Regions from separate parts of the Homo sapiens genome. Here region 1 is linked to region 2. Evidence: fine-mapped expression QTL. A gene starts in region 2. The other region holds a variant in brackets. All regions are shown on one strand. Distances are from middle to middle.

Region 1 (15,798 bases), 67 kb before region 2:
TCTTTCTTTGCAAAGTCATTGTAAAAACAGAAAGGGAATGAGTGAAGCTTTTTATGGGGGTAGGAGGGCACAGCTGCTAGAGCAAGGCTGTCTGGGTTGGTGCTATGGTTCTACTTCTAACTGCACGCGTGGCATAGGCAACTTATTCAAGCTCCCTGTTCCATAATTCCTCATCTGAAAAATGGGGCTCACAGCAGTACCTGTACCTCACAAGGCTGGGAGGAAGATTAAAAGTGCTTAGAATACAACAATAGGTTTTGTATTCTGTTCAACAACAACCACAGTAACAATATTGGCAATATCACTACATGTTGAATATCCTTTATCTAAAATGCTTGGGACCAGCAGTGGTTGGGACTTCAGACTGCTTCAGATTTGAGAATATTTTCATACACATAATGAGATATTTTGGGGATGTGACTCAAATCTAAACATGAAATTCATTTGTTTCATATACACCTTATAGCCTGGAGGTAACTTTATATAGTACTTTTTTTTTTTTTTTTTTGAGATGGAGTTTTGCTCTTGTTGCCCAGGATGGAGTGCAACTTCATATAGTATTTTTAAAAACTTTGTGCAGGGAAGTAAATTTGTGTACACTGAACCATCAGAAAGTAAAGTTGTTACTACCTCAGCCACCCCATGTGGCATCATGCAGCTCAAAAAGTTTCAGATTTCTGGATTACGGATGCTCAACCTATATAATTGTTGTTGCTACTGAACAGAATACAAAACACATCAAAGACTGACTATGTAAAAACTATGAACTTCTGTATGGCAAAGTCAACATAAATGAAGACAAGTGACGAACAAGGATAATTATTTGCATATTAATATCCAGACTATGTAAAGGTTTAATATACAGAATATTTAAAAAAAAACCCTTTACAAAACAAGAAAAAAAATTTTAAAAACTGGCAAAGGAAAATAGCCAATTCAGAGTAGAAATACAAATGCCTAAATAATACATGACAAGGGACTGGGAAATAACAATTAAAACAATGACAAAATATCATTTTGCCCATCACTTTGGCAAAATAAAAATTGACTTAGTTTCCATCCAGTGTTAGCTTGAGTATGGAGAAATGGACATTCTCAACTGTTGCTGCTGGGAGTATAAACTGGTATGGCACGTTGTAAAGGCAATTTTGGTAACAGATTTAAAATAATGCAACCTAGTTCTCCCAGGTATCGATGCCAGGTAAGTATCTGTGCATGTACCAAAACAAGCATAAATACGGCTGCTTATTTATAACAGCAGAAGTCTGAAAATATCCTAAATGTTTATCAACAGGAGAATGATTTATTTAAATTATGCTATAATTTTGTTAGGGAATGCTGGGCAACGGTTAAAATGGAAACAGTTCCATTGAATTAACATGGCAAAACTTCCAAAACAGAAAGTGAAACAAGGATGCTGAACACATGTGGATCCCACTCATGAAAAACAAACAACCGGCTGGAAGCAGTGGCTCATGTCTGTAATCCCAGCACTTTGTGAGTCTGAGGGGGGCAGATCACCTGAGGTCAGGAGTTCAAGACCAGCCTGACCAACATGGTGAAACCCCATCTCCACTAAAAATAGTTCCCATAAAATGTAACTGTGGCTTCCTATTTGGACATATATATTTAAGTGCATAGAAAAGGGTTTTTGGTAGCATCAAGGTATTTCAAAGGAAGACGAGATTGAGGAGCTGGGGAGGAAGCAGAGAGCACTCAGGGAAACTTCTAGGTTTGTTTGGTACTGAAATGTTATTGTAAGAATGTATGCATGTATTATTTGCATGCTTAAAAATAACATAGAGCTTTCCATACAAAAAGTCCACTTCCTCGCTCCCTGTCACTGCCTGTTACACATTCCTTTATTTTTTTAAGAGATGGGGGTCTCGCTATGTTGTCCAGGCTGATCTTGAACTCCTAGGCTCAAGCAATCTGCCTGTCTATTGCATATTCTTCATAAACAATTACTTCCCAAACCCTTTCAATTTTTAAAGTTCATTTCCTGCATGTCTAGTCTGTTCCATTTCCATTTAAATCTACCTAGTTCAAGTCACCTCCCTTCACTTAACCCACTAAGTCTCCTTTCCTTCAGTTTCACACTGCAAATAGACAAGTTTAATTTATAGACCCTGAATCTTTCTCCCTAGGAATTTTCCCTGATATCTCTTGCATTACATGGTAAAATTCACAATAATTTTTTTTCACGTTCATTATTTAGTTATTTTCATATATCCAAATCCATTCCACAAATTTGGGTCTCAAATCAAATACAATAATATTAAGAATGCAACTGAAGCCACAGTTCACTTCTCTGCTGTAAGTTTAGCCTGAGGGACCCATTAGCCTTTAGCAAAATCCCCATGTTATGTTTAAAAACAATAAAAGTCATGAGTTCTAAGAGCTCCGTACTAGCCTACATGGACTTAACAACTAATCTTGAATTTGGTACACTGTGTGTGGGTTTTTGTCCACAAGAGATAGTAGATCTAAAGCACTGGGACACCATTCCCCTCTCCCTGCTCAGAGTAGAAGTCTATGCAACCTCTCTCAACACTGAGACAGCCTGCAACTCAAAAATCTTCTCAGCAGTCCACTCCATCCCTCCGAGGCCGGGCCAAGTCATGCATAGAACCTTGCGTGGTTCCACCAATTGGAAAAGTCTAGACCACAGCTAAGCTAACTGAAGCAAATTATCTAACCTTGCCCTTCAATGCAATAATCCTCCGTCCCTGAAAATAATAACCATTTCCCCTCTCAGCCTCAATCTCCTATCCTCTACTACTCTCATTTGCTTATTGCACCTTATTTCCTTTCTCATCCTTGGGATTTTCTTTGTTCCCAACCCTTTCTAAGTTGCTCATTCTAGGTCCTCCATTCTGTTCTAAACAAACTCCCTCGCCTTATCAACCTTTGGCATTTTCTAGTTTCCTACTGCTACTTGCTCTCAATCACAAAAGTGCCCAAGATACAGCCATACTATGACCCTCAACCCTCCTCTCTCTGAGGTCATCTCCCTCCTCCTCATCCACTGATGGCCTGATTCAGTTTCTCTCTCCACTTTGCCTCCTGCACCAACCTTGACATGTCAGTGTCTAGGCAGCTTCCTGACGTGCATGCACCTCAATCCCGTACAATTCAAGAACCTTTATCTCTCACTCACCCACCCATTTCCGGGTCACAAATCTGGAACCACCCACCTCAAACAGGTCCACTAAGGCAAGGAGTGGAAGATAATTATGCTAAAGTTGAGTTGAGGGGCTGAAGAAAAGTTGGAAACCAACTGGAAAAGTCCTAGAGGAATCTAAAAAGAAGAATAATCAGGGAGAACTAGTAAAAAGATTTTATAAACACTGCTGAGGACCTAGTTAAGGTTAGAGATGAATAATTCCCTACAGCGGCTAACTACATATTGGCTTGATGCCACAATCTGAAGTAGCCTAATTTCTCCCTGTTGAAAAGAATTTTAGCATATACATGTTTTTCAAAATAATTACTTTTTAAGCAAAAATGTGCAAATGTTTTTGCTTTTTAAAAATGTACATCTTTTTCTGGATGCTCTTTTAACACAGAGCAATGATTTCATATTCACAAAAATACCTCCAATGACTTGAATGCTCTGGAAATGAGAGGCAAAGTAAACCAAAAAAATAATCTTTAAACTTTTGTTGAAATATTTCTAAGATTATTTGTAGTCCATTTTCCTTAGAGTATACTGAATATGCCAGAATTTTGCTGTATGTGAAAGCAGCCATTATAGTTTTAAAAGCGTCAACCAGGACTGTATAAACATCAAAATAACACTGATGAATGACCTCAGGACAATCCCTGTGAACTGTATTATATTTAATTTTTAAAACCCTGGTTTTCTTATGGTTTGCTTTCTTCTTTGCTAAGTAGCATGATGGGAAAGGTGGACTTCAAACTTGCTTTGGAAGTTAAACAATTTCATTCATTCATTCACTCATTCAATAAATATTTAGTAAGCACCTACTATGTGCCAGGAACTGGATTATGTGCTGGGAATACAATGGTGAGCAAAAACAAATGGGTTCCCTCCGTCATGGAACTGACAGTCTAGTGGGAGAGACAGACAATTTCATTATTAAATAAATGTATGATTATAAACTACTATAGTCCTGATATAGCTGCAACAATAATGCAAAAAAAAATGAAAAACACTGCTTAAAAATAGGTTATGTTCTCCTCATAATTCAGAAATAGCTATAAGCTCTCATTACACAAAATACCATTTATGCTCTTTTGGAGAAAAAGAATTGTTTGAAATAAACATAAGAAATTATTTACTCAAATATATTTAACAGGTATTATTTGTGAACAACTAAAATTTCCTCACTTGAGGGAGACCAAGACTTAAATTTATCTGTTTTTGTATCTCTCCACGGCACATGAAACGCTGCTTGTCCATGCAGGTTCCTTAAGAACAAGGACCCTTTCTATCTCATCCCTAGGACTGACAACCGTGCCTGCCACATAATGAGATGTATTTCCCATTTTTTAATGAATGAATGAATGAATGAATGAATGAATGGACAATAGGGATTGAAACAACTAAGATGATGACAGAAAAGTAGATCTGCCCCCAAACAATAACTGAAATGACTGACACTGCTAAGGTTCAGTGAGTCAGAGCACACAACTACAGATGCCAGCTGATGTGGCCCTCAGGCCCACCTAAAATGATCCCAAACAGTCCAGTTGAGGGTCAACTCTAGCTAACACAATCAGATCACCATCCTATGTTGTATTTCTTCCAAAATAATAGTAGATCACCCACAGGCAGTACCTGTAAAGAGAGGACTCCATTTCCTACCTGGGTACTGCAACAGCCTCCAGGCTGGTCTCCTGCCTCTACTCTCATGCTGCCCAGGCCCACCCAGCAGCCAAAGGGTCTTCTCAAACAAATCAGAACGTATCACCCACCTGCTCAGAACCCTCTCGTGGTTTCCCATGGCTTTCCAAATAAAACCCAAGCTTTAGGCCCCTGTTCTTCTGACTTTATCTTCATCTTATTCCACTCTTGCCATGCTAATTTTCTTTCCATCCTTCAAGCACTCAGGCAACCTGCACTTTCTTCCTACTGATGGTAACATTTTTGCCTCAGATCTTAAAATGATGTCTTCAAATTTCTGATCTAACATTACCTAATCAGGGACATTTCCCAATGACTGACATATGAACTAGCAACTCCCTCATCCTCTGTCCCCTTTCCCAGTCTTCTTTTTTTCGTGACAGTGACACATTACATCACACAATTGATGGCTGTCTGCTTCCCCACGAGGGTGTCAGGTACCTGAAGGCATATTTCTGTATCATCAGTTCCTAAACAGTGTCTGGCACACAACAGGAAATATATCTATCATGATTAGTCTACTCAAACACTCAGCTAGCATCCATCCCATCAGCAGGTAACATGCATGGAGCCACTGTTGCTGTACTCTATGCAGGAGCACTGTGCAACAGTCCTCTTATGCTATGATTAGGTAACATGAGTTAAAACTGTAAAAACAAAAATTCATTAATAAATAGAAATTAAAATCAGTTCTTTCCAGGACCATCAAAAAGATTAGTAACATAAAGCAATGGTGGTTAAAACAATATGGGGCTAATATCTATTGAGAATAAAATTTTTAACATAGTATGGCAGGAAATTAATTTAGTAAGAACCATCTACCAGTGAAAGTCAGTGGAAATACTGAAATGAGTAACATACTTTCCAAAGATTTAAAACAAACAAAATCTCAGAAGGAAAGATATGCAATGAATAATATATTAAATCCTCTTTGATTTGTATATTCTTCTCTACACAATTCTCAAGGGAAAATTCAAAAGCCAAAAATATATTTCAAAACATATTTGCAAATGTCAGCAACATCAAATAATAAAAATGCTTTTCTATTAAAAAAATGGCTTTTCTATTAAGCATTATTTCTGAAGTTTAGAAAAATGAAGCAAAACTTATGAGAAGATGGGCTTAGAATATTTATTCTAGAATCAGTCTCTTTCAAAGAAGTATTTAAGAACTCTATTGTGTTACCAATTCAATCTGCCTAAATACAAAAAGAATTAGTAACTATTGAACTATCAAAAAAAAAAATAATAATAATAATAATAATAAGGCCAGACACAGTGGCTCATGCCTGTAATCCAACACTTTGGGAGACTGAGGTGGGTCATTTGAGGCCAGGAGTTCAAGACTAGTCTGGGCAACATAATGAGACCCCATCTCTACCAAAAAAAAAAAAAAAAAGAGAGAGAGACAGAGAGAGAAAGAGATGAAAAAAGAAAAAAAGCCCATTTGGAAAAAATAACGAACACTGTAAAAATACCCCAGGTTTGACAAACAAACATATAAAGCCATAAGTATGTAACTGTATTTTACCTCTGTTCAGCATGAGGGTCAATCTAACTAAGATAACATCATTGTATAAAGAGCCCATGTGATAGGTTAATAAGGCCAAGAGAAATGTACTATTAAATGAAAAGGGAAATAATGTATGCTCTGTATGAGCTGCATACTTCTGAACTCTTTTTTTTTAGAGACAGGGTCTTGCTCTGTTACCCAAGCTGGAGAGTGGCGCAATCAGGGCTCACTGCAGCTTCAACCTCCTGGGCTCAAGCGATCCTGCCACCTTAGCCTTCCAAGTAGCTGGGACTACAGATGTGCACCACCACATCCGATTAATTTTTAAAATTTTTTGTGAGACAAGGTCTTGCTTTGCTGCTGAGGCTAGTCTCAAACTCTTGGGCTCAAGCAGTCCACCTACCTTGGCCTCCCAAAGTGCTGGGATTATAGGTGTGAGCCACCGTGTCCAGTCACTGAACATTTTTAAAATACTAATAAAGTCACTGAGAAAGGGTGCCATGTTCAATTACCAAATACATAAATTTTCCACAAGGACAAAACTTTTAAAGTTTTGTACAGACACACACAAAAAGACTGAGAAGACTTAACTGCTCAATCCACATTTGAGCATTAAGGTTATATTTGATTTTCTAAAAAAACAAGATAAACAGATCTATAATCTAATAAAGTACATACGTTTAGCTTTCATTAGGGGAAACAAGATGTATTTTTATGAGCAATTAATCAAATTATTCTACATGTGTATGTGGGGAAAATGAACAAATCTTCAACAAA[C/T]GTATCAAATTCAAGAATAATAGCCTATAGCCTATTTCTGGGTCATCTTATATTTCAGCGAACTAGATATGATCCAGGCTTACCTCAATTCACTGTGTACAGTGTCAACTGACTAATTTAAAGGCAGGATTACGCAATAGGGTATTTAATAATCCATCTTAATGACTTCCCAAATCCTGCTTGTGAGCGTCTACTTAATAGGTAACAAATCAACTAAAAATGCCATTCAATTTTCTTTCTACAATGATTAAAATGCCTACATTAAACAAAAGCCAGAATTCTACATGTTATCTAAATTCCATTTGAATTTTTGAGGCAGTGTCCCACATTAGATAGAACACTGGGCTTACATATCAGGGAGAAGTAAGTTTGTATACCAGCTCCACCACTTACTAACTCTGTGGGACCTTGGACGAATTAACCTCTCTGAGCCTCAGTTATTTCATAGGGTGATAATGTCCAACTTATTGGCATGTGAAAATTAAATGAACAATATTTCAAAAAAGAAAAGGGAGGTGGGGCTTACTCAGTAACTATTTTAAAAAGGGGTTGGGGGATTAAAACTTATCTACCCTAAGCCAAAAGGTCTTTTCTAGCTCCTTCCCCGGAGTGTGGCTCCTGGCAAGCCTTTTTTAGGTTTTGATTTTTCACGGCTAAAATGGGGGAAATGACATGCTCTCTATCTAAGGCTACTGCAAGGATCCAATGAGTTAACACACATGAAAGCATTATGAAAACAAATGCATAAGCATGCAAAAAAAAAGAAACAAAAACCCTTCATTCTTGACAGAAAAGCCAAGCAAGCAAAAAGAGAAACTGTGATTTCTCATTTGCTGCCACACAGAATTTTATCACTGTATAACGCAATGCAAACATTAACCGTATCTTGTATTAATTACTGTAAGACTATCTCCTTCACTAAACGAGTGCCTCTTTGAAGAAAGGCGTGTCATCCTTGTTTCTTCAACAGCTAACATGTTATCAGGCATACAGATGATGCTCAGTAAGTGCTGGAATTATGGCACACTATATTTAACCTTCCTAGTATGTCATTAATACAGTGGGAAGTAGAATTACCATTTTCTTTCCGTAATCTTGTGATGAACTTCTTAGGGGGTATTACTCCAACCTTTTTCTTCTGAGTGGCTATGCTATGGAAGAGATCTGCTAAGCATGTAAGAAGGCTCTCCTTTTTCCTAGGTTGACTCTTATACGCAAGAACTTTTTCCCGAAATGGACGACAAAAATAAAGTGCTTGAAGAACTGAATTGCAGTAGCAGGTATTCCCAAACTGCAACAGAAAAAAAAAAGTTTTGTTAAATTTAGGGCAACACATTTTCAAGAGAGAAATTCCCGGTATATGGTTGAGAACAGAAAGAGATGACAATCGGTTACTACTGTTACTATAACACTGACTGCATTATATTATACATTTTAAAATACAACTCTCAAAAATTCTTTGGAAATCACAAAAGTAAAGTTTTCTATCAGGTTCTTAGGTACATCCAAATTAAAACACACAAAAACAAAAAATAAAAAAAACAAGATCCCCTGAAACGTTACATGAAAAAGTCACCAGTATGACAGTCTAGCAACCACTGAAATGCCAAGTCACAGTATTCATGATGTATTGGAAAGACATCAAATCCTTAACTATGAATTTCTCTCTTACCAGCCATGTCATTGGGGTATGTCACTACATCTTACTGAACTCTACTCCTCTCCACTCTAGTAATTGGGGCGAGACGGGGGAGGGGGCGGGCGGGGAAATAAACCTACTTTATAAAGTAAATGACACACAGTTTCATAAATATGTATTGCCTTCCTTTTCCCTTCCATTAATAAACACTGGCTCTAAAAGCTATAAAACAGCTAAAAGTCAGTCATGAAGATTTGGGGAGCACTATGAAACTATAAAAAAGGAATGAGGATAATTCTCATATTTCTACTATGGGGTGAAATCAAGTATATACAGTATTAGGTTAAAAAGGCTAGGCAGAGAAAAATGTTTAAGATTGGGTGATATCAAATGTATGTCCATAGACCATTTATTTTTTTTAAAAAAATGAGGAAGGATAAACAAAAAGCTAACAAAAATGTTTATAGGAGAAGAGGAAAAATAATGGAGAGATGGATAAAAATGAGACTTCTCTGAAAGAATGTTGTTATAAAACATTTACTTTGTACCCCCTATCTTTTCTAAAATAAAAAAGAAATGTCTAAAATTAAAAACAAAAATAAACAAAACCTAAATGTATATGGATTTAATGGTAGAAATAAAGAGAAATTAATTATTTCAGGTGACTTAAAGAATGTTTACCATACATGCCTAATGAGATATAGTCTAATCATTTTAAAAAACAAAAACAGCAACAACAAAAAATCTACTGGCCAGACGCAGTGGCTCACACCTGTAATCCCAGCACTTTGGGAGGCCGAGGCAGGCGGATCACTTGAGGTTAGAAGTTCGAGACCAACTTGATCAACATGGTGAAACCCCATCTCTACTAAAAATACAAAAATTAGCTAGGCATGATGACACATGCCTGTGATTCCAACTACTCAGGAGGCTGAGGTATGAGAATCGCTTGAACCTGGGAGGCGGAGGCTGCAGTGAGCCAAGATCGCACCACTGCACTCCGGCTTGGATGACAAAGTGAGACTCTGTCTCAAAAACAAACAAACAAAAAAAACAAATTTATTGATATTGTTATTTTGAAACTATTGTAGCTATATCATAGGACAAAGCAAACAAGGAATTATGTTAATACCCTTAGGAACCAAAATTTTTAATGTAAAGGAAAAAAAGATGCTATAATAAAAATCAGAAAAATAAAAGCCTTGTAAACTTCAGTTAGAAATATCAACATAAACTTATAACTCTGAAAATGTATGTCTGTGTGCATGCATGCATGTTTGTGTGTACGTGTTTTCAAATTCTGTCCACTGAAAAGGTGTGGCAGCAACAAGTTTCTCCTATACCCAGATTGTGTTCTCTAAACACCCTTTTCCCATCCAAAAGAACTCGGACACCTTGAAGATATGGCTGATACAAGATCTGCGATAAGAAATGTACAATGTGCCTTCTCAAAAGAAGACATTTATGCAGCCAAAAGACACATGAAAAAATGCTCATCATCACTGGCCATCAGAGAAATGCAAATCAAAACCACAATGAGATACCATCTCACACCAGTTGGAATGGCAATCATTAAAAAGTCAGGAAACAACAGGTGCTGGAGAGGATGTGGAGAAATAGGAACACTTTTACACTGTTGGTGGGACTGTAAACTAGTTCAACCATTGTGGAAGTCAGTGTGGTGATTCCTCAGGGATCTAGAACTAGAAATACCATTTGACCCAGCCATCCCATTACTGGGTATATACCCAAAGGACTACAAATCATGCTGCTATAAAGACACATGCACACATATGTTTATTGCGGCACTATTCACAATAGCAAAGACTTGGAACCAACCCAAATGTCCAACAATGATAGACTGGATTAAGAAAATGTGGCACATATACACCATGGAATACTATGCAGCCATAAAAAATGATGAGTTCATGTCCTTTGTAGGGACATGGATGAAATTGGAAATCATCATTCTCAGGAAACTATCGCAAGGACAAAAAACCAAACACCGCATGTTCTTACTCATAGATGGGAATTGAACAATGAGAACACATGGACAAAGGAAGGGGAACATCACACTCTGAGGACTGTTGTGGGGTGGGGGGAGAGGGGAGGGATAGCATTAGGAGATATACCTAATGCTAAATGAGGAGTTAATGGGTGCAGCACACCAGCATGGCACATGTATACATATGTAGCTAACCTGCACATTGTGCACATGTACCCTAAAACTTAAAGCATAAAAAAAAAAAAAGAAATGTACAATGTGCAAGATTAGCCTGGGATATCTTAAATATAAGTGTCAACTTTAATACAAAAGGATTACTGCAATGGACCAAAACACACCAACTATACAAAAATTCATAAATTTAAAATGACATTTTAGGCTGGGTACAATGGCTCATGCCTGTAATCCCAGCACTTTGGGAGGCCAAGGCAGGTGGATCAGTTGCGGTCAGGAGTTTAAGACTAGCCTGGCCAACATGGTGAAACCCTGTCTCTAACTGAAATTACAAAAATTAGCCGGGTGTGGTGGCACGCACCTATAATCCCAGCTACTCAGGAAGCTGGGGTGGTAGAGGCAGAGGTTGCAGTGAGCCAAGATGGTACCACTGTACTCGGGCTTGGGCGACAGAATGAGACTTTCTCCACAAAAAAAGATACATATGTGTGTGTGTGTGTATATACACATAATGACATTTTTTTAAAAAGCAGCCCTCTTTAGTCTCCATTGACAATTGCAAACTAATATATAAAAGGAAAAACATTCAAGATTCATCTTGCCTTTCTTATAAGAACCATATTTCAGGGGCACTAAACAGTTGATGAAGGAAGTTTCTGTTTATAAAATAAGTCCAGTGAATAAAATCAGAAGAAATGGTTGTAAATAATGGATTAAGCAATAATTATCAATGGATGCTCAAAGCATTAGGTTAAAAGTTGATGGGGATGTTTAAAACAGAGTGAACAGACCTAAACACCCCAGCGATTTCAGCATTGCTCAAGTGAACAACTGAATATTGTGTGTCTTTTAATATATCTTACCTCCTATGAAGTATTCTTGCCTTAAGCAAAATCACTAAACTTTAATCAAGTCTCTACGTGTAACTACTAATTTACAAGACAGTCAACAGTCAGGCAATGAAAGAGACAATACCACAAAGAAGGAAAAGGCCAAGTTTGAAATGGGAATAGTCTCTAGGACAGATGACCTAGTTTCTCCACAAATTGATGACTTGAAAAAAGGTTGAAAAGGACTCAAGAGACACAACAATCAAATTGCAAATGTAAATGCTGGAGTTTACTTAGATCCTGATTTACAAACCAACTATAAAAAGTCATCTTTGGCTGGGCGCAGTGGCTCAAGCCTGTAATCCCAGCACTTTGGGAGGCCGAGGTGGGTGGATTAAGGTCAGGAGCTCAAGACCAGCCTGGCCAACATGGTGAAACCCCGTCTCTACTAAAAATACAAAAACTAGCCGGGCGTTTTACTCCTGTAATCCCAGCTACTCGGGAGGCTGAGACAGGAGAATCGCTGGAACACGGGAGGCTGAGGTTGCAGTGAGCCGAGATGGTGCCGCCATTGCACTCCAGCCTGGGCGACACAGTGAGACTCTGTCTCCAAAAAAAAAAAAAAGTCATCTTTGAGACAAAAGAAGATACTTGAATCAATCCAATACCACTGCATTGGATGATATTAAGAAATTGTTGACTTTGTTAGGTGTGATCATTAGGTGATCATATTTTTTAAAACGTTCCTGCCACTTTGAGACATGTAATTAAACGTGTCCCATTTATGGCCAAAATGCCATGATGACTAGGATTTCCTTTTCCAGGTAAAAAAAAAAAAAAAAAAAGGATAAGTGGAAGAGAAGGAAAATATTGGTAATTGTTCAAGCTAGGTTGATGGGTTCATAGTGATTCATTATATTTACCTCTCCTACTCTAGCTTTTCAAAGGAGGTGTTTAATCTTTGAGGTAAATTGTATAATCATGTCATTATGTGTCACAATCATTGCAAATAAAGGACCTAACCAGATAAGTTCATAGGGAAGACAGACACTAGGCAGAGCCAATAATTTGAGGGGATAAAACAAAGCTCTGCTATGTTCAATCTCCTAATTGTCTGAATATGTTTCTTTTTTTCCACAGAGATTAAACAAATAAGATCCCTCTGCCCCACTGAAACAGGAGTTACCAACTTTTTGAAGAGGCTTGTGAGATCCAACCCCTCTCCAGCTGAGGACCTGAGACCTAGTGAGGACAATGACTTCTCATATCTACACTGCTAGTAGGAGACAAGCACTGGTTTCAGAAAAAGAGGCGCTTAAGCTTAAGAGGTATGTGATTAAAGCGTACTGATATCAATGATCATAAATGTAACTACAGATACACTTCAATGAACCCTACCCAGGGGTTAAGTACAACTGAATGTTACTAAGATTAATTTACCCAGTATCCAGTATAAATCTGTCTTTAAAATTGTATTTGTACTACAATCTAATCAAGCTAACGACCAACAAATCTGGTTATATCAATTGAAGAGAAGATACAATCTCCATATTTTGGAATAGGCAACAGGGGAATTGAACAACTTCCACCGAGCAGGGAGATGAAAGCAAAAGAGATCATCTCCAAGTATACCAGAAATATTATGATAATGAGGATTGACCTATCTATAAAAAATATGAGAAGCAAATAGGATAGGCTAAAAAACTAGAGGGAGTCTCTATTTTGTAGACTACTGGAAGTCAGGCTCACACTTCTGTCCAACATGACTTGCTCATCTTCTGAATATAAAGCAACAGTAATATTATAATCAATTCTCTGAGGCCTGCCATTAGTCTTCTTTTATTTACTTTCATCAATCCCATTAAAGAAAAATTAAAAGGTTGAAAATACTACTCTTTCTCCAGAATAAGCTGACTTTCAATCTTTTTAATAATTTTGAAACTTTTCCTTCAATTTTCTTGATTTTTAATATTAACTTTCATTCAAGGTCCTAAGACCTAAAAATTATCTTTCAAGAGTAGAGCCTTCATGCAAAAGGTTTTCTGGGATGATTTTCTCTATATTCTTGTTTGTGAATGCTCAATTTCTTAAAAAACAAAAAAACATTGCTTTAGTGCTGAAATCTATGCTGTGTTATCTCAGCTGGTTTTGAAAATCAAAGGTAGGTTTAAATTAGGGAGAAGAAATTTTAAAAGTTGCCACCCTACTCGAGGTCTTATCATTGATTTTTTGATTGCTTAGTGAATACAATCTCATTCTTGCTTTCAAAGAGCTTTCTCTAATGCCTTCTTCTCCAAACCTTAACAAACATCCCACCGCAAGTATTTTTTATATACCTACTACTAAGACCATTTTGAGCGCACATCCCTTACACATTTATAAATTATACATACTATGTATATTAAAAATGTAAAGGAATGCAATTAAGAAAATGCACATTTTAGATGTTTGTCTTATTTATTACACACTATTATTTTCATGAAAAATTATTAGTCTTAAGTGAGAGCAATGAGATTGAGTATTTTTGTAAAGGCTTTAGATTTTAAAACAGCAATTTGATAGTCTGTGATGTTCAGTTATTTGGATATGTGGTTTTAATGGCTATCAAAACTGAAAAAGATACCTTCCTAAAGATACATAGGTGCAAGGGAATGAGAGTCTCACTACCTACCTTTACTTTTTAAATCATGGTATCCAATTTGTAGTCTTATCTACCAAATTAGTTTGAATACATTTAGGAAATGCCTGCCTTGAGAGCCCCACAGCACAGTAATGAAGCACATAAGATCTGAAACCAAACTGTCTAGGTTCAAGTCTGGTTCCACTATCTGACCTTGGGAAATTACTAAACTGTTGTTTACCAGTTTCTTCACCTGCAAAAAGGGGGTAATACAGCACCTACCTCTTAGAATTTCTTAAATAATTAAATGAATCATCACATAAAACACTCAGAACAGTTACTGGCCCTTCATCATTTCATAGCTACTTTTTTTTTTTTTTTCCTGAGACAGTGTCTTACTGTCACCCAGGCTGGGGTGCAGTGGTATGATCATGGCTCACTGCAGCCTCAACCTCCTGGACTCAAGATCCTCCCACCTCAGTCTGTGGAGTAACTGGGACCTCAGGCACTCAGGCATGCAAAATGCTCCCAGCATTTTTTTTTTTTTAAGAGACAGGGTCTCACTCTGTTGCCCAGGCTGGTCTCAGATTTCTGGGCTCAAAGCAATCCTCTCGTCTTGGCCTCCCAAAGTGCTGGGATTAAAAGCATGAGCCACTGTGGCCAGCCAATAATAACTTTTAAAACAACCTTTTAAGTTAACTAAAATTCAATCATATAATTCTCTAAAACTACATTTAAATTATAATAGATCTGCCACAGCAGAAACAAATGAGAGAGATGATGCCATCAACCCTTTGACATCATGGAACTTGAAATAACATACAACCATATCATATACAGATAGAGTATAGGCACCAGTCTCATCCATATGTTAAGAATAATGCTTAGTCTACCATTTTTAGATAAAAATAAACATCAGAAATGCTAATATTTTCTTCCTATTCCCAATGGATCATCTTACACACTTCATTTGGAGACTACTAGTTTTAACCACCATAATGTCAATAGCATTACTTTGTTTAAATACTGAGGCTAGGCACAATGGCTCATGCCTGTAATCCCAGCACTTTGGGAGGCTGAGGCAGGAGGATCGCTTGAGACCAGGGATTCAACACCAGCATGGGCAATATAGTGAGACCCCATCTCTACAAAAACCTTAAAAAATTAGCTGAGCATGGTGGTGTGCACCTGTAGTCCCAGCTACTCAGGAGGTAAAGGCAGGAGGACGGCTTGAGCCAAGAAGGTGAAGCTGCAGTGAGCCAGGGAGGCGAAACTGCAGTGAGCCATGATCACTCACTGCACTCCAGCCTGGGTGACAGAGCAAGACCCTTTCTCAAAACAAAAACAAAAACAAACAAACAAACAAACAAA
Region 2 (15,798 bases):
CTGTTTAGAAGAAGCTAATGGTCCTTCTGAAAGAGAAGCAGCAGCAAAGCATAAGCCAAGGAACAGAGAGGGCTATACCACCTCACACAGTGGTGCTCTACATTAAATTTCTTATAGTTTACACTATCACAAAAGTCTTCGAGTTTTGCTGTGAGAAAGCAAAGACTTACTAGTTTTTCTTCCTAAATAAATGTATATAAACTGCCACTCTAACCTCCTAAAGCAAATTCTGCACATAAGATAGCAAATGGTCAAATGTTATATGTAAGTTTTTCAACAATACTGGGACTCCAATAGAGAGTTTTCAGTTCAGCAAGTGTAACTCTTCATAATACAACTCTTCACTTACTACTTTCTCCCAACACCTTTAAAGTATGGTGTAGATATGTAAATATCCCTCTTCTAGACTAGGAGATTGGGACTGTAGGTTTTAGACAAGATATCTAAGAGCAAGGTGGGTAAGTTCAATGTAAGCCAACAAGAGATGTTATTCCCTTGTTATGCTCCCTAAAGGATAGAGCATAAGGAAATTAAATATAATAATATGGCCTCAGTAAACAGAAAAATCTGAAAGAAAATAAGTCCTGAAGCTAACTTGAATGCACACACCTTGTTCTAGTAATGACAAAAAGCTGGTGTGCTTTTTTTTTTTTTTAGTATAAAATAAGGTAAGATAGATTTTTCTTCTAAAAGTATTAGATTGTTGCAAAAGTAATTGTGGTTTTTGCCATTCTCAACTTATCTAAACTTGTAAAATATGTTTGAGAATGTCACAAATTAGACCAGTTATTTTTGTTCCCAGATAAAAGAAATAAATTATTCTATGAACTATTCAAAATAGAGAAAGAAGACAATCTACATTCTCAGCTTTCATATTATGAATTAATCCACTCAATTTCAAAATAAATTAGTGCTTTCTCAGGGGTATATACTACTAATAAACTAACGTTTCTTATAATGAAAAGGAACTGACAATTGTATTTCACAAAACAAATTTCCATTTTGGTTAGTATATGTTGAGCTAACAGATTAATTAGTAGTGCCAATGAATACTTTTTACCACAGGGAGGGGAGCAAATCATGTTAAAGGGCAGTAACAGCCAACATGACACAGTGATTACCATGGGCCAGGTACTAGTCAACAACCCTATGAACTAGATGTTATTTTACTCTCACTTTACAGGTACAGAGAAGTAACTTGTCCAAGGTCATACTCATAACTAAAGAAATAAACATGGAACCTCAAAAAAATTCAAATCCCTTAATGGTACTGGCAAAGAAAAAAGTGTCAAAAATTAGCAAATAGCTTTGTGAATTATTAGGCTGTTGGTGACGAAAATGGTGGTATCAGTAACCTCCAGTTTTAAAGAAAGAAAAATGTATTTAGACTGTAAAAACTAGGGAACTAAGTGAAATTCTTGCTTAATTATGTCTGATTCTATGCTTTTTATGTTATCTAAAACATAATTAGAACTCCCAAGATGTTCTAGAAATGGGCTACAGAGCAAAAAAAATAATAATAATTTTTTAAAAAAGAGCTCCTAAAATGATGAAAATGATACCAATAATCATTTATAAACTACTAAAGGATCAGAATTTTAGACCTAGAAGGAGACAAGCATATAAGGAATATCTATTAAAGAGTATCTAGTCCAATCCCTTTATTTCACAGATGAGAAAAATTAACTCGAAGTTTTAAGAAACTTTCCCATATATACACATCTAAATGTCAAAATCTGGACTAGAATTTACCTTCTGGTCCAACTGCTCTTTTCATTATACCATGCTGTCAAATACATAACAAAATACCATATTAAGTTTCTGGAATAGAGCTGCTAAAAGAGAAACCAAAACAAAATTAGATTATTTAAATCTAAAAAGGTTTCTGGAAAGGAATTATACAAAGTATACAAATGCTTAAAAGATACTTCCTGAGACAATAAAAGTTTCAGAAGAGCTAGAATAAATATGAGTTTAAAGGCAGGAAGAAAGGAATTTGGTAAATGACAAAAAGGAGGCAGACTCAGTTTGGGGGGACTTGGTCAAAAGTCTAGAATCAAATAAGGCAACAAGAAATGTGACATCATCTCGCTGCAACTGGCCAACATGGATCATGGTAGGGCAGATAATTAACCTACTTTGAGACCTATTAGCCACTTATTAGCAAAAGGTGGAAAGAGAAAGTCACCAGAAGGTAAGCAAAGCCATATGATATAAAATAAGACCATAATATTTATACACATGCCACATAATTGAATATGGTATTTAAAACTAGAGTTTTCAAGCATATTAAAAATTTCAGATCATAACAAGTCTTATCTTTGTGATAACTAAGTGCCTAAGATTAGAATAAACCACCTCTTATAAAATTCCATTTCTGCTAACTATATCACTTTACCCTCTAATAATCATTAAACATATAACCTGTCAACGCCCTAGTACCCTACCACTATGCTTTATTGGGCTCATCTCACCACCTCATCATTTTATAACATTAAACTCATGTTCATCCTAAAATTGGGCAAATTTTAGGATGGGCATGAATGATGATAATGATAACATGATAATCATTCGTGGGTAAACAGTGTAAAACTATATCTAGGGAATACAACTCAAGTTTTTTAAAAAGTTAAATAAAATATGCTCTGGCCAGCCTGACCAACATGGAGAAACCCCATCTCTACTAAAAATACAAAAATTAGCTGGGCGTGGTGGCACATGCCTGTAATCCCAGCTACTCGGGAGGCTGAGGCAGGGGAATCACTTGAACCTGGGAGGTGGAGGTTGCGGTGAGCCAAGATTGCAGCATTGCACTCCAGCCTGGGCAACAAGAGTGAAACTCCGTCTCAAAAAAAAAATAAAATAAATAAATAAATAACATATCCTCTGGGAGGTAAAAATTGACCTTCCTTTTGCTTTCTTGGAGTTTTTATATTTTCCAGATTTTCTATGAGAATGTATCATTTTTAATGTCCAAAATGTATTTTAGACAAATTCAAAAGATGAGTGGGCTTAAATAAAACTTCTATTAATACTTCTTCTAAATGTTCTCTCTCCACCAAGCTCAAACATTCCTTTGACCAAACATTTATGTAATAGAAGATTCCTTATTTTTGAGGTTTTCTTATTTTTTTTAAAGGCTTAAGAAGCTTAAGTTTTGTTCCCTTCTTAAATTAACACAGCAAAATTAGATAAGTAAAACAATGGCAACTCACATTTGAATGCTCCTATCATAGAAGTACTATTTTACTAATAAAATATTAATTTACAAATAAATATTTTATTAATAAAAGAACTACATCCACCCTATTTCTTGAGAAGGAAAAAGAAATTTCATTATTTAATATAATATTCTTGTTATATGAAGAGGAGACTTTCACACACACACATTCCCAACAACGCATGGGCTCTGAGGTTTGCCCCAGCTTTCCTTTTTTTCAGTAGTAAGGATAAATTGCACTGACCACACATACCCTTACCTGGATCCCAGTGAGACTGAGCAGTAAGAAAAGGCAAACATTTTCCATGTATGTCCTTTCTAATTTATGTTTTTAAAAATCGTGTTATTAAAACAGAGCAAACAAAAAAGAAAAGACAGCCAGTTTCACCTGTGCCTTTCTTCAGCAAGTAAAGTTTACCATGCTCAGGGTGCTGTGCTAGGCACAGGCTTTCTCAGAAGAAAAGCCCGTGGGACTCTCCTAGCACCTACCTTTACCAGCTTTGGCCTCATTACCACCATGTTCTAATGGATCTAATCTCATGCCCTTGTAACCGAGGGTGGGCAAGCAGCCAGGCCAGTGCCACCCCATGATCTAACTCTACCCACCTCCTGCACCAACAACTTCTCCGTTGTCTGGTCCCCCTCCCAACAACGCCTTCCTAACCATGACTCCTACAACCCAAACAGGAAGAGACAATAATGATCAGAGGCAGAGCTAACATTTATGGAGCTAACAGTAAGTAGTGCCAGCTCCAAAGCAGGGGCTGTCCTGACCACTACTGCATGCCCATGACGGACCACCCGGATTAGCCACCTCAACTGCAAAACACAGCCTCTCTACATGTATTCTGTCACTTTTCCCGTTATTTCACACTTATTAAGTATAATATTAAATATCAGGTAGGCAGGTACTCCGTGCCAGGCCCTGAAGTCTGAAACTACTTCAAAGGCAAAATAAACACTATGTGATACTGAAAATGTATTATTTCATAGACAAATTAAAAACAGGTATTTCAAGAGGTACCCTTGAAAATGTACTCACTGCAATCTAAACATAATCACTCATTTGGTTCAGGCTATAATACTAACTTATGAAAAACAAGTTTTACTAATTTTCACATGTAAGCACAACACTAGTGATCTAAAATAAGACACAGCTGAAGAGAATTGTTTTTAACAGTTACTTAACCCAATTAAGGTATTGCAGATTTGCCCAGGTACGTTATTTTGACAAATGAAAAAATTATGTACACTTCAGTACTTATAGAATAAAATTTCAACTCATCCTAAATGTTTTCACAGCTGCTGATTCTGAGAAGTGTTCTGTTTAAGTCCAGCCCATCTTCTCTCCACCATTCCACACACACACAGCCACATCATCCCTGCTTCACCCGGCATACCAGGAGGAGGCAGGAAGGACTTTGGAAAACTTTTATACTGAATGCAGAACTTGGTACTCCAGATCAAACTGCAGAAGTAAATGATAATCCTTCCCCTTCAAGGCCCTCACAATTGAGTAAGAGTTCAAAGAAAAATTTACTGCACAGTAAGTATGATAAGTGCTACTGAGATTACAAAAATGCCATGAAACTGTATGAAGGGGATGGAGGGTCGGGTTGGACAGGGGTAGGATTATTCAAGTAAGGCTCCCTGCTTAAGAGACAGGCACACACACTCGCCAGACAAGAAGGATACGGGGTGTGGCAGGGAGGAGCGTTCCAAGCCTAGCAAAACAGCACCTACAAAGCCAAAGAGGTATCTTTGCTTTTCAATTTTGTGATTCTCAGAGGACAAATGGCAATTTTCTTTAAAGAATAAGACTGCAAATTACTTTGAGATATTCAGCACTATTTGGGGGTACATTCGAATGTATTCAAATATGAATACAGACACACCCAATTTTAATAGTACCTTTGGAACGATCTCATTTGGCCAGGCATTTTCTGTATTTGCCAACAATACACACGCCCCACATGTAATTAATGTATCTGGATGGAAGCCCTAGAAAGAGCTTCTGATTTGACATCCTTGGGATCAGAATCCCACTTACTAAGTGTGTGACCCTGGCAAATCCCTGTGTCTCACTGTCCTAATCTGATTACAGCATACATTTATTGTTTACCTGAATACTGTTTGTGTCCATGAGCAAGAATGTAAACACCAAGAAAACAGGGGCTGCCCTGACCAATACTGCATCCCCAGTACTCAGCGTCGCCTCTAGCACTTAGTGGCTGCTAAGTGTATACTTGATATACAGTACTTGAGTGAATGAACAGTCGGTAAAGAGTATCACACCACTCCTGAAATCTAGTCTTTGACAATGAACTATGACCCATACAATGTGTGTAGCTCAGCCATGTGGCAAAATTGTCACTGTAAAAGACCTAATTATCGCATTCCTTTTGAAATTGACTAAGATAATAATTGGCGTATCTAAAAATAATTAGCCCAAACAATTCTCCAAAATCATTTTAATATAGTCCATTTAATACAAATGCTTTCCTAAAATGTAAACTGTGAGAAAGAACAATCATCCAGTTGGGAAATGGAGTCTTCAATGATTCATCCTTCAATATGATTTCTTTAATACTGTCGATTTTATGTCCACCTGATTTCAGTCATTTTTTGTACTGTTCCTCAGCGTGTAGTAGAGAATCTGCTTTTTAAGGCATCTTTCAGATCTGATTCACCACTCCTTAAAGAAAAATATATACAATGTACCACCCTTAGATGGAAAATTTCTTGGGGATCTCCTATATGAAATCAGTTGCATAAATAGGGCCAGTGAGGCATGAAACACAAGATTTCAGAAGTCTCTAATAACAACCACTAGGCCCACGTTGCAAAGAACAACTTTTTTCGGTGATGACTCATAAATTATGATCCCTACATATAAGCTCATGAGGAACTAATGAAACGAATTTGTCTCATCATGTGGAAAACTGTGGTCCTTCTGGCCACGCACAAAACACCAAGTTTTAAACGCGCCCACGTTTTGCTTAATTCGGGACTTCCAGCGGGCATTAGCACTTTTCCCTTACAGTCTATTTAAACGCCCTAGGAAAACAAATACCATCGCCTTGGCAGGCGGTCCCCGCACAGACAGACCTAGCTCCAGCCACATACAGATGTGTCTGGTGGGCTGAAGTAAACAAATGACAGGAAAGCTAATGCTGCTTTTCAAGATTAACGTGCATTCCCAGAGACAAGACTGCCACCTGGACACACGGCTGGAAACGGGAGAGCTCGTGCCTCTCAGAGGAGAAAATGGAGAGAATTTCAACAGTACTTATTTAAAGTTTCCACCTTCACACACGCCCCTTTCCCCCAGCGCGGGGTCGGGGACTCGGCCCAGCCAGCGGCGCGAGGAAATCTGCACTTGACTTCCGTCCTCTCCCAGGCGGGAATGAGCGCTGCCCGCCCCGGCCGAGACCCTTCCTTCCTGCCCGCCGACCCCCACCCCTCCCGGGGACCCCTCCCGCTCGGCGCGCGACCAGAAGGAAATGGAGCCCGCGCGGCTCCGCGCCCCCTCCCCGACGACCCCGGCCCGGGGCCGCGCTCTGGCTCGCGCGCGCCCACCCCTCACCCCGGCACAGGCCGGGCGCGCCTCGGCCCTCGTCCCCGCGTCCCGAGCGGACCCCAGCAGTTCAGCCGGGGACTCCCGGAGGCCGGTGCCCGCCCGACGCCGCGTCTGGCACGGTCGCCCACTCACCGCTACCCTCGCGCCGCCCTGGCCCACCAGGCGGCGCCCCCTCCCCAGCCGCCTGGGCCGCTCACCCCCGCGCTCCCCGCCTGCGCGCCGTCCAACCGCCCCCGCCCGGGCCGCCCGGGCCGCCCAGCCCGCCCGCCCGCCCCGGCGCTAGGCCCCGCGAGCGGCCACTGGGAGAGGCGGGTCCAGCGCCGCCCGCCCGCCCGAGAGGTCCCGGCAGCCCCGGCCGCCCGCTCGCCGCCACCTACCATGGTACAGATGGAGGCGAATTTGGAGACTGTCATTAGGATTTCCATCCGGCCAGCGCCATCTTCCACCCAATCACAGCGGCGGCGGCGGGCGGGGGAGGAGGGGAGCCGGGCCGCCCGCTCGCACCGCAGCCCGCGGGCGGACCCCGAGCCGCCGCGGACCCAACCACCGAGCCCGCTGGGCCGCCGCTGCCGTCGTCGCCGCCGGCGCTCAGGCACTCCCGGCCTCGGGCCCCAGCCCCCGCCTGCCGGCCGCCGGCCCGCCCCCGGCTCCGCCCCGGCGCAGGGCGCAGCCGCTGCCTCCGGGCCCGCGCCTGCACGCGAAGCCGCCCTCCGCCCACCCCGCCCAGCGCACAGGGGAGCGGGCTCCGCCGAGGCCCTAATGCCCGGCCTGCCAGGCAGCGGCGCGGCCAGGCGGCGCAGCCCCGCCCACCCCTCGGCAACCCCTCCGCGGCCCTTGTGCGCGAGCCGGGGAACTCCGGTCCGTCCCCACCCCGCGCGCGGCAGAGGGCAGGACCGAAGGCGGGCGCCACCTCCTGCCCGCGTCCCTGCGGTCCTAGAGCCGGGGACCCAGAGACCCCCGCGTAGGAAGGGGTGCGGCGGGGAGGCGCGGGGGTGGCGGCGGCGATCTGGGAGAACCCTGGAGGGGACCAGCTGCGACACCCACCGCGGGCGAGGGGACGGCGAGCCCCCGCTGCCTAAACAGAAAACGGAGGCGATGATCTGGGTAACTACGGGCGGAGTGGGAGGAAACCTGCTCTGCACAGTTAAGATAACCCGGGTATGCGTCCCAAGCACTTGGTTTGTTTCTTTTTACGTATATTGGATGAATCACCGGAGTCAAACACAACTTAGAAAAAGACAAAATAATTAAACAAAAATGAAGAGGCAAAGAACAAATTACACATGTTTAACTCTTTGAATTAAGAAGAAAGATAAGTAATGGGGGAAGGAGAGGAGCGAAACCTGTTGGCCTGTTGGCGATAAATTTATAATAGGCTTCTAAATATCTGCACATTGAGCTGCAAAATAGGGAGGATCTCAAGCCAGCAGTGATGATGATATTACCAGAGACAGGAAGCCCGCAAGCAAGAAAAATGCCCTGTGAGAAATCCTTAGGCAGTGCTGGCTACTGGCATGGGTAGTTCCTCTTTCTCCTTTTATAAAATTCATATTTGCACCCTGTTCTTCATGCCTGGCAGCTCAGCTTTATTTTTTCCTATTTGAGAAAGTAGTTCAAGTGAGTAGAATAACTTCATAAATTATTATGTTAGAAAGCTTGTGATATTTTCTGATTGAACTCGTGATGGGGTACTTTTCTGGGTTCCCCTAATTCAGTGGGGTTGAGGATCTGAATTCAGGCAGAGCTGTAAAATCAGAAATGCCTCACCTCAAGGGTTCAAAGCACTCAAAAACAAAAAGCATTCAAACAAAATTTAAGTGAAAAATAGACTTCTGGTACATGAATACTGTTTCCATAGTGATTCCATTATAAGCTTGCTTGGGGGGGGAATGCAGATTGAATATAGCCAAGCCCCATGGTAGCCGGACTGGATCTCCAAGCGCCTGCCTCCATGGAAGCCAAGAGCCCTGATACCCCAGCCAGGGGCTTTCCTCTCTATACTTGCAAGCATCACCCACCTGAATTCTTTCTTGCTCTTTTCTACCCCCTGTTTGGACAAGGGTTTCTACATCTTAGACCTCTAGGGCCTACCTGGGCCTTGTCCGAGTGTCACCATGCCCATCTGTGTGCCCGTCCTGATAAATAGCTGTGGTCATCCTGTCCTTCCCACTTGCTGTTCTATTCCAGCAAACAGGTCTGATGTGCCAGAATTTTAGACCTGCCTCCATCCCGCTAACCACCCATATGCCTCCTTGTCCATTAATCCGAACATGTCACAGGAACAAAAGCCACTGGCTTTACATATAAGTTTATATAAGAACAAGGCCTTTCTAAAATGAATTTCTAGGCTGAGTATGGTGGCTCACACCTGTAATTCCAGCACTTTGGGAGGCCGAGGCAGGTGGATCACTTGAGGTCAGGAGTTGGAGACCAGCCTGGCCAACGTGGTGAAATCCCGTCTCTACTAAAATACAAAAATTAGCCAGGCGTAGCAGTGTACGCCTGTAATCCCAGCTACTCAGGAGGCTGAGGCATAAGAATAGATTGGATCCTGGAGGTGGAGATTGCAGTGAACTGGGATTGTGCCATTGCACCCCAGCCTGGGTGACAGAGTGAGACTCTCTCAAAAATAAATAAATAAATAAATTTCTAGGCTGGGCACAGTGGATCAGGCCTGTAATCCCAGCACTTTGGGAGGCTGAGGCAGGAGGATGGCTTCCAACTTCCTTGAGACCAGGGAGTTCAAGACCAGCCTGGGCAACATAGTGAGACCTTGTCTCTACTAAAAATAAAAATAAATACGTGGTGCATGGTGGCGCATACCTATAGTCCCAGCTACTTGTGAGGCGAAGTAAGAGGATAACTTAAGCCCGAGATATCCAGGTTGCAGTGAGCCATGATTGAACCACTGCACTGTAGCCTGAGCGACAGACTGAAACAGTATCTCAAAAATACAGCACAGTGGCTCTCGCCTGTTGTAATCCCAGCACTTTGGGAGGCCAAGGCGGGCGGATCACTTGAGGTCAGGAGTTTGAGACCAACCTGGCCAACATGGAGAAAGCCCATCTCTACTAAAACTACAAAAATTAGTTGGGCATGGTGGCGAGCACCTGTAATCCAAGCTACTAGGGAGGCTGAGGCAGGAGAGTCGCATGAACCTGGGAAAAACCAGTGAGCCGAGATCATGCTACTGCACTCCAGCTTGGGCGACAGAGTAAGATTCCGTCTCAAAAATTAAATTAAATTAAATTTTAAAAAGTAAAATGGATTTCTGATAGAATTATCTGGAGTCATGTCTAGTTGATGTTGGAGCCATCTAAATTCACAGGTAAAGTCATGAAACCTAATCACAGAGCCTCACAATGCCTTGTCTCCACAGCCTATGGTCGATTGGAGAGACACAAACATAAAAGAGACATTCTTGAATCTATGTGCTAGGTGTTGTACTGAGTGTTCTTTACCATATGTAATGCAGTTGGAGAATAAGTTTGGCTGAAACTCCACACTTTTGCACCCTGAGCTTGGAAAGGGTAATCTGGCTTTAGAACACAGCTTTACACAGCTGTGTAATCAGCTTTACAAAGAGCTTCCCTGTGCCTAGCAAAAGATGAGTTTGTGTACAACTGACTCCTTTTCGGCCTTCTTGAATATGCAAACTACAAAATATGCCCAGATGCCTCAGGGACCAGGCAAGTAAATGAACTATGTCCAACCTTAATCCATTTAGTCAGCACAGCATTTTATAATGTTTTCATTTGCATACTGTTACACAATCCTACACTCTCCAGTTCCTTACAGTCTGCCTCAAATTTTCCTTTACTCATTCTGTTCAACAGTTTAACACAAGTCACTTTATTATATAGTTCTGCTACCTCTTTTCTCCCTGAAGGCATGTGGGTTTATACCAGCTCACATAAATGATTCGTGAAGCTTTGCTTGTGATGGGTTGGGAAAGAAAGTGATGGGGAGTGGTCCAAGAAGGGGTGTAAACATTTTATCTAATCCTTGCAACAACCTAATGAAGCAGGTGTTACGATTATCCCCACGTTTAGATAAGGAAACCAAGGCACAGAGATAACTTTTCCAGGGTTGCACAACTAACTAGTAAGCAATGGAACCAAGGTTTGAACCTAGCTCCAGGAGCCACACCTGTGTCCACTCCACTACACTAGCTTTGTAAAAGTATTTTATTTTGATTCTGACAGGATGAGGTTGAGAGGCACGACTCCTTTCGGACTTGCATGAAGGTTTAAGCTACAAAAAAAAAATACTCAAATCGATATTTCTTTGTTTCACTTTCCTCATCTGGAAAATAAGGGTAATAATTATGTTACAACGATAAAACATGTTTCAAATAGTGCCTGGCGCTCAACACAAAATGGAAAGTTTAGAATGGACATTCAAAGTCAACATTTTAAAAGTTGGGGGGCCGTGCGCAGTGGCTCATGCCTGTAATCCCAGCACTTTGGGAGGCCGAGGCAGGCAGATCACGAGGTCAGGACATCAAGACCATCCTGGCTAACCCGGTGAAACCCCTTCTCTACTAAAAAATACAAAAAATTAGCCGGGCATGGTGGCGGGCGCCTGTAGTCCCAGCTACTCGGGAGGCTGAGGCAGGAGAATGGCGTGAACCTGGATGGCAGAGCTTGCAGTGAGCCAAGGTCGCGCCACTGCACTCCAGCCTGGGCAACCGAGCGAGACTCCGTCTCAAAAAAAAAAAAATTTAAAAAAAAAAAAAGTTGGGGTGGGCAAATACAGCCCTCGGGCTGCCAGCTTGCTCCTCCAGATTTAATGAGCCTCTGCTATGTGCCAGCCACCTGCTTAGTACTTCAGATACATATTCCAATGTAACCCTTACGATGACCTTACAGATCCATCATTTCATACTTATTTTACACACAGGGGAATATGACATTCATCATTGCACTAACCAGCACATACAGGGCCAGGATCCACACAAAGGCTCTGACTCTAAAACCTGTGGTCTCTCCGCTTCTTTACCCAACCTCTTAATAGTTGAAGGAATCAGTCGTCTTAGTGGCATTCATTAATATCACCCAGTCATCAAGCAGTAGATGTCAATCAAAACAGTAAATTTTTTATTGGCTTGAATCAACAAATCAGCGACTTTTCAGGCCTTTCCTTTCTTTTCTTTTTCTTTTTTTCTTTTCTTTCTTTTTTTTTTTGAGACGGATTAATTTTGGGATTACAGGCATGAGCCACCACACCCGGCTAATTTTGTATTTTTAGTAGAGACAGGGTTTCACCATGTTGGCCAGGCTGGTCTCGAACAGTGCTGACCTCCAAGCAACACGATACATTTCAAGGCTCCTCAAGCACTAACAGATATTCTGCCTGCTTCTCTGAATCTCTTCTTTGGGTTGGAGTTTCCCATTTTCTTTTCAGCATTTGCTCAGCTCTAATGAGAAAGTTTATCAGGGGAAAAAAAATAGCACAAGAAAAGGAAACATCCTCTGGACTCCGAGAAGCCTCCGGCATCTAGGTCTAACTTCCCCATTCCCAACTCTGATTTTCTTGATTTGTGCCCTTAGAGTTTTTCCTTTGGATACATCTTCCTTCATCTTGCCTTCTCTCTACTACCTACTTCTCAAATTTTTCAGAGTAGTTTTTCTATATGTTTTACCAGGGTTTAACCATTTGTTGGAGTTTGTATGGGAAACCTTTGGCTCTACCTTGTCATTTTGCTGTCACTTTCACATTCAGATTTGCATTTTAGCACCCACGGGGCCTCCTTGCCACTTGACCTTCATCAGCCTACCTAGGGTACCTAGGGAGAGGTAATGTGCCACGTTGGGGTTTCCTGAAATGTTCAAGCTGAATCCTCAGCTGATGAAATACACACAGTTTCTACTTCTTCTTTAAAAAAAAAAAAAAAAACTCTATTAAAATAGCTAAGCACAGCAATGTTAAACCAAATAAAAAATTCCAAAATATATTTAGCATGAAGAAACTCCTGTCATATACACAAGAAACTGTTAACGGTGATTTCCTGGAATGAGGAAGTAGGAACTAGGGGAGAAGGTGGAGGAGGGAATTTTTACTGTATACTTTTTTAGTTACACATGCGAATATACAACTATTTCAAAATTTCAGTAAATGGAGTATTTTTAAGACTTAAAAGACATATTTATGTGACATTATTTTTAAATTACTAGGGCACAGTTAACATTTTTTTTTCTTTTTAAAAGTAATGTATTGGCCAGGCCCACTGGTTCACACCTGTAATCCCAGCACTTTGGGAGGCCGAGGCTGGCAGATCACGAGGTCAGGAGTTCGAGACCAGCATGACCAATATGGTGAAACCCCATCTCTACTAAAAAATACAAAAATTAGCCGGGCATGGTGGCACGCGCCTGTAATCCCAGCTACTCAGAAGGCTGAGGCAGGAGAATCACTTGAACCCGGAAGGCAGAGGTTGCAGTGAGCCAAGATCACACCATTGCACTCCAGCCTGAGCAACAGAGCAAGGCTGTCTCAAAATAAAAATGTATTTTGAGCCTAGTTTAACTCTGATTCCTCTCTGCCTAAGTAGACCATACACTTGAACCCCCATGCTCCCTCCTTAGGGCTCTCTCGAGGTACTTATCTTCCACTTTCATTGGCTCTGACTGTCTTAGTAAAGAAAGAAAACAATCTCTTTATACATGAAGTAAAGGACAAGCATCTATTTGCCTGCTTCAAGAGGGCTGGCCTTGGGTTGTTCTTCCAGCACTATCAAAAGGAAGAGGTTATGGGGGAAGTGAGAGGTGGAAGAAGGGAAGTGAACCTCAAAATTTCTCACTGTTTTCATGTTCCTGCCTCTCCATCCTCAAGACCCAAAGAGAAAAGAGATGCAGTGGGCCCCAGTCTATCACGTGATCAGTGCCCTCACCTGCCCACTAGGCGGTTCTGTCGCTGCCTTTTTCCCAGCATGGGAAGAGCACTTGCTCCTCTAAGCTCCTCTCCATCTTAACCTTTTCTGGTTTGCTTGCTTATTTTTTAGAATAATTTACTTTGGCCTTTCCCAATTCCCTCTGGTCAAGTCTGCTAGGTATGTTGTGCACTTTTATTTCCTTTTTGTGTTTTTTAACAACAATTACACACAGGAGCAGATATATCTGCTTTCTGCCACAAACCTTGAGGATACACAAATGACAGATTTACGAGAATTTTTTTTAAAAGGTCTTCCAGGTAACAAGTAAATGCACATGTGTCTCTCCAAAGCTCCAACCAGGGCTGCTTCTCCAGCCAACCTGCCGCAGACTGGCACGCAATTCCCCCAGAGCCACTTCTTCCTCTCTTCTGTTGCTGGTAAACAGCAAGGAGTTTTGCATCTTAAGGATTCTATTGTTAATTGTTCCTGGGAAACAGGAAATAGACAATAAAATAATGAATATGGGAAAGTCAAAGTTTATAAAGCTCTGTAGTAGGGATAGTTGACCCTGAAATACTACAGGGTTTCAAGTTAAGACTTAGGGTGTCCGAAGGCTTGATTGACTCCCCCTGTACACACACACAAACACACATGCAAGATGTTCAGTTTGTGATTCTTTTTTCTTCTTTTCTTTCTTTCTTTCTTTTTTTTTTTTTTTTTGAGACTTAGTCTCACTCTGTCACCCAGGCTGGAGTGCACTGGTGCGATCTTGGCTAACTGCAACCTTCACCTCCCGGGTTCAAGCAATTCTCCTGCCTTAGCCTCCCAAGTAGCTGGGATTACAGGAGTGTACCACCACAGCCAGCTAATTTTTGTGTTTTTAGTAGAGATGGGGTTTCACCATGTTGGCCAGGCTGGTCTCGAACTCCAGACCTCAGGTGATCTGCCCGCCTCGGCCTCCCAAAGTACTGGGATTACAGGCATGAGCCACCATGCCCAGCCAGTTTGTGATTCTGAACAAGCTCTTAACTTTCTCAACTCCAGTTTCCTCATTATACAATGGTGAAGACCCCTACTTCATCATGTTGTTGAAAGGATTAAATATGATATTGTACATAAGTTCTCAGCACCAGACCAAGCCCACAAGGAGATAAAAGGAATGCACGGTTGTTCACCTGGAATCTTCACCTGTTCTTAACAGGACACTTCAGTCAAAATAGCTTGTGATTCCTTGACTCAAGAGGTAATGAATTTCCAACAGCCAAAAGGTGGAAACAACCCGCATGTCCATTGACAGAAGAATAGATAAACAAAATGTAATATAAACGTACAATGGATTATTATTCAGCCTTAACAATAAATGGTATTTCAACACATGCTACAACACGAATAAACCTTGAGGATGTTACGCTAAGTGAAATAAACCAGTCACAAAATGACAAATATTATATGATTCCATACAGTATTCCATGTGTATGAGGTACCTAGAGTAGTCAAATTCATAGAGCCAGAAAGGACAATGGCAGTTGCCAGGGACTTGGGAAGAAGGGCAGGGAGAGTTATGGTTTAATGGGCACAGTTTCAGTTTTCCAAGATGAAAAGAATTCTGGAGATGGATGGATGGTTGCACAACAGTGTAACTGTCCTTAATGCGGCTGGGCATGATGGCTCACTCTTGTAATCCCAGCACTTTGGGAGGACAAGGCAGGCAGATCACCTGAGGTCGGGAGTTCAAGACCAGCCTGACCAACATGAAGAAACCCCATCTCTACTAAAAACACAAAATTAGCTGGGTGTGGTGGCACATGCCTGTAATCCCAGCTACTCGGGAGGCTGAGGCAGGAGACTCACTTGAACCCAAGAGGTGGAGGTTGCAGTGATCCGAGATCACGCCACTGCACTCCAGCCTGGGCAACAAGAGCGAAACTCCGTCTCAAAAAAAAAAAAAAAATTCCTTAACGCTACTTAACTGTGCACTTAAAATGGTTACATAATAATAAAGCCTATTATATGAGTCTTCAGAGGAAGATAAGAGGCAGTTTGGTACAGGGGTTAGAAAGTTAAACTTGGGAAAGACCCTGACCCTTTCAGTTTGTCAGTTACTTCTTAAATCAGAGGTCAGTG

What was found. PIP is the estimated chance that this variant, and not a neighbour inherited with it, causes the effect.
Region 1: its variant is fine-mapped to the expression of USP12 in whole blood (INTERVAL, PIP 0.99).

What each region holds. Positions count from the first base shown.
Region 1 is chr13:27,097,495-27,113,292 of GRCh38, forward strand. It overlaps USP12 (ubiquitin specific peptidase 12), which reads right to left. Exons shown (of 9, transcript NM_182488.4): 3 at 8,237-8,450. Among named protein-coding and RNA genes, the nearest start is that of USP12-AS1, 20 kb to the right of the region's middle. The variant C/T (reference allele first, on the strand shown) is at 7,160.
Region 2 is chr13:27,164,415-27,180,212 of GRCh38, forward strand. USP12 (ubiquitin specific peptidase 12) reads right to left here and starts at 7,397. Exons shown (of 9, transcript NM_182488.4): 1 at 7,178-7,397. The coding sequence starts at 7,225. USP12-AS1 (USP12 antisense RNA 1) reads left to right here. Exons shown (of 3, transcript NR_046547.1): 3 at 4,523-4,721. It overlaps USP12-DT (USP12 divergent transcript), which reads left to right and starts at 7,845. Exons shown (of 2, transcript NR_046548.1): 1 at 7,845-7,958. RefSeq lists enhancers at 6,374-6,483, 7,984-8,173, 13,952-14,452 and silencers at 6,724-6,773, 6,804-6,873, 6,944-7,033, 7,094-7,143, 7,284-7,923.